2 separate regions of the Homo sapiens genome follow, and region 1 is linked to region 2. Evidence: fine-mapped expression QTL. Tissue or cell type: sun-exposed skin. Region 2 holds a variant in brackets; the other region holds the start of a gene. All regions are shown on one strand. Distances are between the middles of the regions.

Region 1 (2,500 bases), 100 kb after region 2:
ATGAAGGAGGCAGAAATTGCAGTGAGCCAAGATAGTGCCACTGCACTCCAGCCTGGGTAACAGAGTGAGACTCCATCTCAAAAAAAAAAAAAAAAATGCCGCGGTGGCTCACACCTGTAACCCCAGCACTTTGGGAGGCTGAGGTGGGCAGATCACTTGAGGTCAGGAGTTCAAGACCTGCCTGGCCAACATGGTGAAACCCCATCTCTACTAAAAATACAAAAATTAGCTGGGTGTGGTGGCACGTGCCTGTAATCCCAGCTACTTGGGAGGCTGAGGCAGGAAAATCGCTTGAACCCAGGAGGCAGGGGTTGCAGTGGTCAGATAGCCCCACTGAACTCCAGCCTGGGCAACAGAGAGAGATTCCATCTCAAAAAAACCAAAACCAAAAAACCAATAAAACAAAAAACAAAAATGACGAAAAAAGACTTCTAACCCTGACCAGACCAGATTATTTTGAATGAAATCTCTTTCTCTGTTCCATGAGCAGTTCTGTGTGTAGGGAGATCAGTCCCTGTGCATAGTGATTTAATCTGGTTTCTGTCTTCTCAGCTCAGAGTTTTTGATAGGGCTTTCACCTAGGCCACAGAGAAAGAACCAAATGATAGGGGATCCCGGAGGGGGAAGGAAAGACCCAAACATTTGAATGGCCTAATGAGCAAATCACATTTCTCTGGGTCTGTTTCCTTATCCATAAGTGAAAAAGTTTGGTGTATGTGATCTCTGGGGTACTGCTCAGCTCTTGACACTCTGTGGTTCTGGGTAGTAGTTGAAAGCAGCTCTCCTCTTCCTGAATTCTCCATCCTTGGACTGGACCTCTCGTCTGTTTATACCTTGCTGTGCAGTTTGTTTCTCCTGGGCGTCATTTCTTCTTCAATTTCCTCAAATCCTACTTGCTTCTTAGCTCCTTCATATCCTCTTTGTTTTCTTTGCTTCTGCAGAACCCCAGATTACACCCCTGGTCTCCAGTTCTCCATCTCCATGTCTGCCTGTTCCTTTCTGCATCACTGGCTCCTAACTCAAGCAATCTCCTTGGGTTTCTCTGAGGGGCCCCTGGGATCCCCTATCATTAGTCCCTCTCACAGAAGCATACCCTTCTCCAGAGCTAAAGGATCAGATATTCAGCGGCTCAGGTAACAAACCTGCTGTCAGGTTACACATATTGTTTCCTGAAAGACCACACTACAGTGTCAGTGGAGCCTCAGGTTGCCTGCAGTGCCCTGCCCTCACCTGGCTATCCCACACAGGTGAGAATAACCAGAACTCACCTCCGGTACCAGTGTTCACTTGGAAACATGGCTCTCAGCCTCTGGCCCCTGCTGCTGCTGCTGCTGCTGCTGCTGCTGCTGTCCTTTGCAGGTAAGAAGAACAGTGAGCAGAACTGGGGATGAGGAGGAGGGTGGCTGGAAAAAGACTTTAAGAATATGGAGGTGAACCTGTTAGATAGAAGGACAAAGGAGAGAGGCAGAGACTTGTGCAAAAGGGAAAAATGAGGGTTAAGAAAAGCAGGCCAAGACTTACTGTAGGCCAGTGAAAGGGGTTCAGCTCACCATCCCCTCACCTCATCTTTAGATCCAGGTAGGGAACTGTGCTCAGGGGCAGGGTTGAGTTTGGGCTCTGTGTTCCTCTCCTTCAGTGACCTCTGGTTTCTCTCCTTACAGTGACTCTGGCCCCTACTGGGCCTCATTCCCTGGACCCTGGTCTCTCCTTCCTGAAGTCATTGCTCTCCACTCTGGACCAGGCTCCCCAGGGCTCCCTGAGCCGCTCACGGTTCTTTACATTCCTGGCCAACATTTCTTCTTCCTTTGAGCCTGGGAGAATGGGGGAAGGACCAGTAGGAGAGCCCCCACCTCTCCAGCCGCCTGCTCTGCGGCTCCATGATTTTCTAGTGACACTGAGAGGTAGCCCCGACTGGGAGCCAATGCTAGGGCTGCTAGGGGATATGCTGGCACTGCTGGGACAGGAGCAGACTCCCCGAGATTTCCTGGTGCACCAGGCAGGGGTGCTGGGTGGACTTGTGGAGGTGCTGCTGGGAGCCTTAGTTCCTGGGGGCCCCCCTACCCCAACTCGGCCCCCATGCACCCGTGATGGGCCGTCTGACTGTGTCCTGGCTGCTGACTGGTTGCCTTCTCTGCTGCTGTTGTTAGAGGGCACACGCTGGCAAGCTCTGGTGCAGGTGCAGCCCAGTGTGGACCCCACCAATGCCACAGGCCTCGATGGGAGGGAGGCAGCTCCTCACTTTTTGCAGGGTCTGTTGGGTTTGCTTACCCCAACAGGGGAGCTAGGCTCCAAGGAGGCTCTTTGGGGCGGTCTGCTACGCACAGTGGGGGCCCCCCTCTATGCTGCCTTTCAGGAGGGGCTGCTCCGTGTCACTCACTCCCTGCAGGATGAGGTCTTCTCCATTTTGGGGCAGCCAGAGCCTGATACCAATGGGCAGTGCCAGGGAGGTGAGTGTGGCCAGGGCTGGGACTGGGATGTGGCAGGGCAAGGAAAGTGAAAT
Region 2 (2,840 bases):
AAATCTTACATATATTATCCACAAAGGAGATGCTCTTGAATAGTTTTGCTCAAAGTGTGGCCTGAAGATGAGCAGAATTGGCCTCATCTGGTCATTTGTTAGAAGTGTAGAATCTCTCACTAGCAAGAGACTAAAAAATAATTAAAAAAATAAGTATAGAGGCCGGGCATGGTGGCTCACGCCTGTAATCCCAGCACTTTGGGAGGCAGAGGTGGGTGGATCACGAGGTCAGGAGTTCCAGACCAGCCTGACCAACATGGTGAAACCCTGTCCCTACTAAAAATACAAAAATCAGCTGGGCGTGGTGGCACACACCTGTAATCCCAGCTACTCAGGAGGCTGAGGCAGGAGCATTGCTTGAACCCGGGAGGTGGAGGTTGCAGTAAGCTGAGATCACACCACTGAACTCCAACCAAAAAAAAGGAAAAAGAATCTCAGGCCCCATTCCCCAGGCCTATTGAATCAGGTGATGTAGCTGCACATAAAAGATTCAGAACAGCCGGGTGTGGTGGCTCACGCCTGTAATCCCAGCACTTTGGGAGGCCGAGGCAGGTGAATCATGAGGTCAGGAGTTCAAGACCAGCCTGGCCAACATGGTGAAACCCTGTCTCTAGTAAAACTACAAAAATTAGCTGGGGGCGGTGTAAGGCGCCTGTAATCCCAGCTACTCAGGAGGCTGAGGCAGGAAAATAGCTTGAACCTGGCTGGCAGAGGTTGCAAAAAAAAAAAAGATTCATAAGGCACTGCTTCATAGGTATTTGATGAATATTCCCTCCTTCCCTTTTCCCCCAAAACACTACACAGATATACCCTCTTGACTTTTTCTTTTCTTCCCTTTTCTTTTTTTCTTTTCTTCCTTTTTTCCCTCCCTCCCTCCTTTCCTTCCTTCCTTCTTTCCTTCCTTTCTTCCTTTCTCCCTTCCTTCCTTCCCTCTCCCTCTCTCCCCTGCCCCTTCTCTCTTTCTTTCTTTTTCCCACACAGAGCTGGCTGTGCAGGAGACTGGAGTTTTACTATTATTACTCAAATTAGTCTCTTCTGACGTTTTTGAGACGGAGTATCACTCTGTCGCCCAAGCTGCAGTGCAGTGGCACAGTCTCTGCTCATTACAACCTCCGCCTCCTGGGTTTAAGCGATTCTCGTGCCTCAGCCTCCCAAGTAACTGGGACTACAGTCACACGCCACCACACCTGGCTAATTTTCGTATTTTTAGTAGAGATGGGTTTTTTGCCATGTTGGCCAGGCTGGTCTTAAACTCCTGGCCTCAAGTAATCCGCCGCTCCTTTGCCTCCTGAAGTGCTGTGATTACAGGCGTGAGCCACCGTGCCTGGCCTGAATGAAGCTTTTCTAGCATACATTTTCTCTATAAGGCACTTTACAGCCTTCTTGCT[A/C]TTAAGAACACCACACAACACTTTGGCATTAAGCTTAGGAGCCATTTTAAACGGTGAAATCACCAACAAACAGCCCCAAAACACAAAAAGTGCATCACTAGATAGAGCTCAAAAAAGACACTGGCTGGGCGCGGTGGCTCACGCCTGTAATCCCAGCACTTTGGGAGGCCAAGGTGGGCGGATCATGAGGTCAGGAGATTGAGACCATCCTGGCCAACATGGTAAAACCCCGTCTCTACTAAAAATACAAAAAATAGCTGGGGGTGGTGGCACATGCCTGTAATCCCAGCTACTCGGGAGGCTGAGGGAGGAGAATCACTTAAACCAGGGGGTCGGAGGTTGCAGTGAGCTGAGATCGCCACTGCACTCCAGTCTGGTGACACAGCAAGACTCCGTCTCAAAAAAAAAAAAAAAAAAGACACTAATATTTACACCATGAGAGCTGCAACAAGAAGGCAGAGCACTGCCTTGTTCCACCTCAGCTGGGAACGTGTATATCAGGTGACTCCAACTTGTCACCTCTCAATACAAGTCTGTGAATGACCTCAATAGCACTGTAAGTATTGATTTTGGGTTACAAACATTTAGTGACTAGGCAAATCCACAAATACAGAACTCACAAATGACAAAGACTGACTGTAAATGCTGTGGTAATTTGGAGCCTCGGGCTATTTTGACCTTGTGACACTGCCATCTCAACATGTGGTTTCTAGGTTGCCTCAACAGGGAAGAGATTGTTGGAGGCTCATTTGCTAGCTCTTAAATTCTTTGTTCAACCACAGTCCATTGAACAGAACTAATCACCTGAGCCCAGCTAACTGCAAGAGACCTGGGAAATGTGAAAAACACCTAGATATCTAGTAAGCAATAAATATTTCAGTTACCAAAGCCAAACCAAAAAAAGAGAAAAATAATTGTACTTTACAAAGAGAGGCATCTGGCTGGGCATGGTGGTTCACGCCTGTAATCCAAGCACTTGGGAAGCCGAAGTAAGTGAATTGCCTGAGTCCAGGAGTTTGAGACCAGCCTGGGCAACATGGGGAAACCCTGTCTCTACTAAAAACACAAAAAATCAGCTGGACGTGGTGGCACACACCTATAATCCCAGCTACTCAGGAGGCTGAAGCATGAGAATTGCTTGAACCCAGGAGGTGGAGGTTGCAGTGAGCTGAGATCACATCACTGCACTGCAGCCTGGGTATCAGAGTGAGACTCAGTTTCAAAAAAAAAAGGAGGCATCTGTTCTTTTTTGTTGTTTTTTTTTTTTTGAGATAGAGTTTCCCTCTTGTTGCCCAGGCTGGAGTGCAGTGGTGGGATCTTGGCTCAGTGCAACCTCTGCCTTCCGGTTTCAAGCGATTCTTCTGCCTCAGCCTCCCGAGTAGCTGGGACTACAGGCACATGCCACCATGCCCAGCTAATTTTTTGTATTTTTTAGTAGAGACAGGGTTTCAC

Alleles and levels. Positions count from the first base shown, and alleles are read on the strand shown. Sizes are in standard deviations (SD) of each study's normalised expression.
In carriers of allele A in region 2, the expression in sun-exposed skin of the gene that starts at base 1,218 in region 1 tends to be higher than with C alone (moderate effect, 0.45 SD a copy in GTEx).

Evidence for each region. PIP is the estimated chance that this variant, and not a neighbour inherited with it, causes the effect.
Region 1: STRC starts here. The variant in region 2 is the best candidate, but not a certain one, in a credible set for the expression of STRC in sun-exposed skin (GTEx, PIP 0.58).

What each region holds. Positions count from the first base shown.
Region 1 is chr15:43,617,518-43,620,017 of GRCh38, reverse strand. It overlaps STRC (stereocilin), which reads left to right and starts at 1,218. Exons shown (of 29, transcript NM_153700.2): 1 at 1,218-1,359; 2 at 1,662-2,447. The coding sequence starts at 1,296.
Region 2 is chr15:43,721,431-43,724,270 of GRCh38, reverse strand. No RefSeq gene overlaps it. Among named protein-coding and RNA genes, the nearest start is that of PDIA3, 24 kb to the left of the region's middle. The variant A/C (reference allele first, on the strand shown) is at 1,389.